Linked DNA regions of Homo sapiens. The protein of the gene in region 2 interacts with the protein of the main gene of each other region in a biochemical or structural test. Each region holds a gene or a part of one and is shown on either strand. Other genes may lie near its edges.

Region 1 (3,755 bases), on a different chromosome or scaffold from region 2:
CATTTTCTATTTTTTTCAGGGCTCAGCTTTCACCCCAAAAGACCTTGGATCCTGACTAGTTTACATAATGGGGTCATCCAGTTATGGGACTATCGGATGTGCACTCTCATTGACAAGTTTGATGAACATGATGGTGAGATATTTCTAGGAGGAAGTTAAAGGAGTATAAGTATTTATAATATCCTGGGGTATTTTAAGCCTTGTTTGACATGGATTCCTCTATGATTAAAGAATGTGGAAATGATAGAACTGAAAAATCCTGAATAGGAATCACCTTAGAGATTAGAAAGGATAGCTCTGTCTAACATACATTGCCTGCCTTCTCCACCAGGTCCAGTGCGAGGCATTGACTTCCATAAGCAGCAGCCACTGTTCGTCTCTGGAGGAGATGACTATAAGATTAAGGTACAGAGGGTCTGTCATAACTGAGAATAAAGGAAAGAGGATGTGGGAAGGTTTGGGAATCATGAAAGGAACTGAAAGACAGGAAATTTCATTCATACAGAGCTCAGGCCTTTGACAACATTATCCGGAGAACTTACTCAGCAAACATTTATTGAATGCTTACTGTGTACCAGACACTGTTTTCTTTTTAGGGAATTCAAAAATAAATAAGAAATGGCTTCTGTTTTCAAGGAGCTTTTATTCTAATACAGAAGATAAACATATATCCAAGTAATAGCATGTACAGTTTGGTAAGCAATATAATAGAGAGATATTCACAGTGAAATAGGAAAGAGCAGTATAGGTGCAAAGACAAAAAGCATGACACAGCTAGATACAGGGCAGCTGTTATTGGTTTTGTATGGAGAAAACCTGGAGAAATGGTGAGAGAAGGGGCAGAAGATGAGAGGGGCCAGATCATGGAGTACCTGTTTGTGGCGCTCAGGAGTTTAGATGTTATCATGCAGATAACTAGGAGCCATTTGAGGAACTTAAATACAGGAGTGATACCAGATTTATATGTTTTTAAAATGATTACTTGGTGGTAATTAAAGAAAAGATTGGATGATTTGGGCAAGACAGGAGGCAAAAATACCAGTTAGGAAACCTGAGCTTAGGTAGTAGCATTTGAAATGGAGAGAAGGAGATGGATGTGAGAATTTAAGGAAATGAATCAGTGTGTCTGTTGGGTGATGGCCAATAAGGAGAAATAAATGAGATGGCCAATAAGGAGAAATAAGGGCCAATAAGGAGAAATAAATGAGCTGACTTTCAGGCTTCTAGTTTAGGTCACTGGGTAAAGGGGGTGTCATTAACTAGGAAAGGAAAATCAGGAGGAGATAGTTTTCTGGAGTGGAAGAGAATGGATAATGAATTCCATCTTGTCTCTGGTGATTTTGAGGGACCTAAGGGACAGTCTAGTTGAGGTGTCTGTGCTAGAAATATATTTGTGATTTGTCGTCATGAAGGGAGGAGCCAAAGGAGAAGCAGTAGAAGATATTGCTCAAGGAGTACGTTGAATAAGAAGACAGACCATCATTTAAGGGAGAGAGAGGAAGTAGAGTTAGTATGGGAAACAGTGATTCGAGGGGTTCGAGATGAACCAAGAGGGAGAAGAAGCCTCTTGGATGCCAAGGAAGAAGAGAATTTTGGGAAGGAGAAAGTGTTCAGAATAAGATCAAGATTGAGAAATAACCTTTGAATTGCTTAATTTGGAAGGCCTTAGTGTGAAATGAGGAAGCAGACAGAATATAGGCAATTCTTTAAAGACAACTGACTATCATAATAGCAAAAGTTAGAGCCAGAGACTAGCAACCTATAAAAATAAATCAAAATTTCCTCTGTTTACTTCCTTTAGTTGTTTTCATTAAGTCTATGTGTCAAACCGAACCAGTGAAATTTAATTCATAAAAAGGTAAAGTCTTTTCATAAGCAACTTCAAGAAGTTATATATTGTGATTATACCGCAGAACTTAGGTGATGGGAGTAAAGAGTGACAGCTGCCTACAGAGAAAAGAGCTATTAGAATTATAGGAAGGACATTTCTTTCTGTTTTCTAGTTTTTAGGCACCACATCCTGGGGCAATCAAAACTCAAACCACCTGACAGATCTCAAAAGCCCATAAGGATATCACCTCATTATAGTATTTTTGTATTTGTTATTTATAGTGATGAACATTGAGTATCAAGAATGGTTAACTTGGGATTCTTATAATCTGTTTAAAAAGGAAAAACTGGGTGTTAATTAAGAAAAAGTTTTCCCAAAATGACTAATATTTTGGAAAAGAAATTATCTTCCACTTATGAAATGTCCAGAATAGGTAAATCTATAGAGACAGAAAGTAGGTTAGTGATTGTCTAGGGTTGGAGGGGTTGGGAGGAAATGAGAAGTGACAGCTAATGGGTATGAATTTCTTAGGGGAGTGAATAAAAATGTTCTAAAATGGATGGTTGCACAACTGTGAATATATTAAAAGCCATTGAGTTTTATACTTTATATGAATAAATTGTATGGTATTTGAACTGTATCTCAATAAAGCTGTTATTAAAACAAAGGAATTCTTTATTAGCTGGTAGGTGTGTAGTGCTATCATTTGGTGGGTTTTTTTGGTTTGTTTTTTGTTTGTTTGTTTGTTTGTTTGTTTGTTTTTTGCGATGGAGTCTTGTTCTGTTGCCCAGGCTGGAGTGCAGTGGCGTGATCTCGGCTCACTGCAGCCTCCACCTCCCGGGTTCAAGTGGTTCTCCTGCCTCAGCCTCCCGAGTAGCTGGAATTACAGGCATGCGCCACCAAGCCCGGCTAATTTTGTATTTTTAGTAGAGATGGGGTTTCTCCATGTTGGTCAGGCTGGTCTTGAACTCCCGACCTCGGGTCGTCTTCCTGCCTCGGCCTCCCAAAGTGCTGGGATTACAGGCGTGAGCCACCGCACCCGGCCCATTCGGTGGTTTTAATTAATTTCTCTGATGACTAATAAACTTGAACATTTTTCCATAAAAAGGGGGATTATCTAGAAAAGTCATGTCTGTGGACCATCTTATTGCTTGCTATATCCAGATAAATGTAGCATTAGTTATAATCCTCGTTGACAAAGAGTAAGACAAGGAGCCCAGCAAATGGTCAGAGTATTCATCTAAAACCCCTATAAGTTTTTAAGGATTTACAGTTTTGGAGCTTGACTTAGGCCATTAAAGGAGTCAAGACATTTTGAAACTAGAAATATGAAAGTTTAAAACACTGAACTCTATAAGGGGAAAAAAGTCAGTTAAAGAATAGTGTTTATGGTATGGTCTAATTTTTATGTGAAACTCTACTGTGTACATGTGTATTTATATGTAGCTGATTGAATAGATAGAGGCAAAGGTATTGGAATACCTTAACTTTTCATGTTATTCTTATTTCCATACATAATGCTTACTGAGCACTTACCTAATGTCAGGCACTGTGTTAGGTGGTAAGGGTATAGTGTTGAGCATGATGGACAAGAACCCTGCCTTTAAGGAACTCAGCATTCTTGTTTGGAAGATCATACTTTTGGATTGTCTGGACTTGTTATAGGAAATGAAATTTTTATAATTTACTGAAGAAAAGTTAAAAATTAGAAATAGTAACAAGCTGGCCCAGATTGATTATAAACAAATATTAAAAAGAAATTTAAAAAAATTAAATAAGAAGAAAAATGCATCTGGTCTCTTATTTTTGTACATTTTAGGGGATTTTCTGAATGAGGAAGATAAGCTATTTTATATTTATGATCCTGGTTTTCATGTCTTCAGTTGTGTTCATTGATGCCTAGTACTTTGGTAGTTGACTCAAC
Region 2 (3,755 bases):
ATATAGAAGTTCACTGCAGAAACTGATAACGGGTGTGTGTGTGTGTGTGTGTGTGTGTTTTAATTCTCTGCAAGCTTTTGTTTTAGAATAGAAATGTGATGGACTTAAAACCCTCACTGAGTAAATTACTTTTCAAGTTTTAGGTTTCGTATGTGGTCTACATTTTATTGTAATCTTCTCTCTGATTTTATCTATAATAGCTTCATATAAATAGAAAAGACAGAACAGTCCTCCCTGACAATTATAGAAACTAGCCTTAATATGACCATGAATTGTGTGTGCATGTATATGTGTATAAAATATTGCGGTGAATTACAAAGGAGAAGGTGACTATAATTCTGGAAGTAAGGGATCCTGAAGCATTTAGAGATTCAAGAAAGAACTTGACTTTTTTTGAGAGAGAGTTGTGCATATTTATCCTGAATTATTATACCACCTGTTATTCTTGTATCTCTCTTGCACACACAATTTGTTATGGTTAGACAATTTGCCTTCTGGCAGCCTAATGTTACTATAAAATATTGTTCCAAAGTGGTTAGAACTGGAGCAGTGGGTATAAAATGGAAGTATTGTACATTTTCTGTCACTGTAGTTGTTTTTTTTTTTTTCTGTTACTGTAGTTTTCAAATGCTTAGACTTACAGAACTTTAAAGACACAGAGCACTTTGGATTTCATGTAAACTAACCTCCTATGTTAGGGATATTTCAATAATCAATTAAGTGACTTATCCAAGGTCACATAATTAGTGGCAAAGGCAGAACAGAAACCTAATTCTCCAGGTTTTTTTACTTGAGGCACTTAACAATTCATGTAGTTAAGTCTGTGTAGGAGAGAGTTGTTATTTAGTCCAAAGATAGTGTACTCAAACCATGTAAGAATTATTAAAAGTTGTTTGGCAAAGCTCAACTTTATGAGGGAATTTTTTTTTTTTTTAACCGTCCTGGAGAGATCATCTAACTTATGGGCCCTCAGTTTTCACATCTGTAAGACAATCAAGGGCTCTTGCAAGTTCCTTTTAGATCTGGAATGTTTTTTCCAAAAATGTTAAAAAAAAAAAAAAAAAAAAAAACCAAAAACTTTGTAATCATATTTATTAATTCTTCCTCAGAGAAAATCAGATCAAATTTCAATAGGGAAAATTGTTAACTTACCTTTTAGTATATGCTATATTTTAATAATTGTTAAACCAGTAAACATTAATGTAAAGAGGTTTATTATTTCAAGAACTTTAAGAAGACAAATGTTAATTTAGGATAGGATAAATTTATCATGTTTAGAGGTGACCATACCTTCTAGCCATATTAGTAGCTGTAACAGAGAGACCTGTGTCAACTGCCTGGAACCTGTAATTTGTGGTGTCCTGGGTGTTCGGAGATTTATGCTATACTTAGTATGGGGAACTATGGTCCTATTTTGGAAGCCTTGTTTTGCTTGTATCTGGATAATGGAATGACTCAAAGAGAGACATATGATTTTACCCTACTTCTTTCTTCATCTTGACGTACTGAAAGCCTGGAATTCTGGCCAGGTGTGGCGGCTCATGCCTGTAATCCCAGCACTTTGGGAGGCTCAGGCGGGCAGATCACTTGAGGTTGGGAGTTTGAGACCAGCCTGGGCAACATGGCAAAACCCTGTCTCTACAGAAAAATACAAAAAATTAGCCAGGTGTGGTGGCCTGTGCCTGTAGTCCCAGATACTTGGGAGGCTGAGGTGGGAGAATCACCTGAGCCCAGAAGGTTGAGGCTGCACTGAGCCAAGATCACGCCACTGCACTACAGCTTGGGCAATAGAGCAAGACTCTGTTTCAAAACAAACAAATCCTGGAATTCATCAAAGCATGATCTAAATTCTGTTTCTTTCTTTCTTTCTTTCTTTTTTTTTTTTGAGGCAGAGTCTCACTTTGTAGCCCAGGCTGGAGTGAAGTGGTATGATCTTGGCTTACTGCAACTTCCGCCTCCCAGGTTCAAGCAATCCTCCCACCTCACTCTCCCCGTAGCTGGGACTACAGACGTGCACCACCAGACTTGGCTAATTTTTTGTATTTTTTGGTAGAGACAGGGTTTTCCCATGTTGACCAGGCTGGTCTCGAACTCCTGACCTCAGGTGATCTGCCTGCCCTGGCTCCCAAAGTGCTGGATTAAGGCATGAGCCACCGCTCCCGGCCTAAATGCTGTTTCTTCTATCAAGTCATCCCTGACTGTACCAGCTGGAAGTAATCTCTTCCTCTGAATTTCCACGCACTTTATCGGTTACTCTCTCATGTTACTTAACACATTCTGCCTCATATTACAGTTATTTGTGTTTGTGTCTTATCCCTATTAAGCTTCTTGTAGGCAGAATGCTAGCCTGTGTCATCTTAATTCTCAGAAAGCATGTTGTATGTATAGTAGATGTTCGATAAATAATTACTCAGTTAATTCTTATAATATCGCAAAAATGGAGATTACCAGTACCTATAATTAGTTTTTGAACATGCTCATCAGTAAAGTGGATGGGCCAGGTGCAGTGGCTCACTCCTGTAATCCCAACACTTTGGAGGCCAAGGCGCGCAGATGACTTGAGGCCAGGAGTTGGAGACCAGCCTGCCCAACATGGCAAAACCCTGTCTCTATTAAAAATAGAAAAATTAGCCAGGCTTGGTGGTGCTGGCCTGTGCCTGTAGTCCCAGTTACTCAGGAGGCTGAGGCATGAGAATTGCTTGAACTCAGGAGGCAGAGCTTGCAGTGAGCCAAGATGGCACCACTGCACTCCAGCCTGGACTACAGAGTGAGACACTCTCTCAAAAAATAAATAAATAAATAAATAAATAAATAAATAAATAAATAAATAAATAAAGTGGATAGTAACATACACCTTTTTGTTCCTTTTTCCCTCTCAAGTTGCTTTTGATGTTTTTACCTAAATTTTACTTGTATGGTATAGAGGTGTTTTTAACTCCAGTTGGAAACCTAAGAACTACCCTTGAGCCTGTAAACATTGTTTCTAACAGGTTTATTATTAGATATGGGGTTTCTATTAAATGCAGCATGTTTATATAGGTCTGAAGTTTTGGTCTGAGCTGTCCTTTCTTTAGGTGTTCATTTGATTTGTCTTATTTCTTCAAAACCTCATAAAATTCTAACATAGAGGACCATGACTTCCTAGAGCTATGACTCTCAACCTTTTAGGGATAGGAGGCTCTACAGGGATTACATTTACAATATGCTCCCATTTATTAATAATATTTCTCATCGCATGAGGGGATTTTCTATGGGCCATTTGAAATAACTTCTCTAGAGGATCGATGCATTCCCTGAAACTGTATGTAAAATTTTGGGGGGAGAGTCAATATTCATTATTTGAATATCAAAATATTGACAAAGGCAAAAATCCATTGCCTTGGCCGGATGCTGTGGCTCACACTTGTAATCCCAGCACTTTGGGAGGCTGAGGTGTGCGGATCACTTTAGCCCAGGAATTTGTAGCCTGGGCAACATGGCAAAACCCCGTCTCTCTTTTTTTTTTTTTTTTTTTTTTTTTTTTTTTTAATAAAAAAAGAAAAATCCATTACCTTGAAGTGGCATAAATTTTTTTCATGAGATGCATGTTTATTATTACTAATGGTGCTGTTTTACATCATGAATATATGTGCTACAAGTTGTATAGCACTTCTGAAGTACAGTTTCATTATAGTCATTTGGCCCTCATAATAGCTTGTAAGGTCATTAGATAATGCTGCATTTTATAGGAAAAGAAACGAGGTTAAGAGAGGTTG

Evidence for each region. Proteins that work in one complex are often made in the same cells at the same time.
Region 1: the proteins of ARCN1 (region 2) and COPA form a complex in vitro, tested with the Homo sapiens proteins (one study listed by BioGRID).

What each region holds. Positions count from the first base shown.
Region 1 is NC_000001.11:160,336,559-160,340,313, reverse strand, and holds part of COPA (coatomer subunit alpha), read left to right. Parts: intron 1-19; coding exon 20-133; intron 134-331; coding exon 332-405; intron 406-3,755. UniProt on the Homo sapiens protein: The coatomer is a cytosolic protein complex that binds to dilysine motifs and reversibly associates with Golgi non-clathrin-coated vesicles, which further mediate biosynthetic protein transport from the ER, via the Golgi up to the trans Golgi network.
Region 2 is NC_000011.10:118,575,380-118,579,134, forward strand, and holds part of ARCN1 (coatomer subunit delta), read left to right. Parts: exon of another isoform or gene 1-1,519; intron 1,520-3,755. UniProt on the Homo sapiens protein: Component of the coatomer, a cytosolic protein complex that binds to dilysine motifs and reversibly associates with Golgi non-clathrin-coated vesicles, which further mediate biosynthetic protein transport from the ER, via the Golgi up to the trans Golgi network.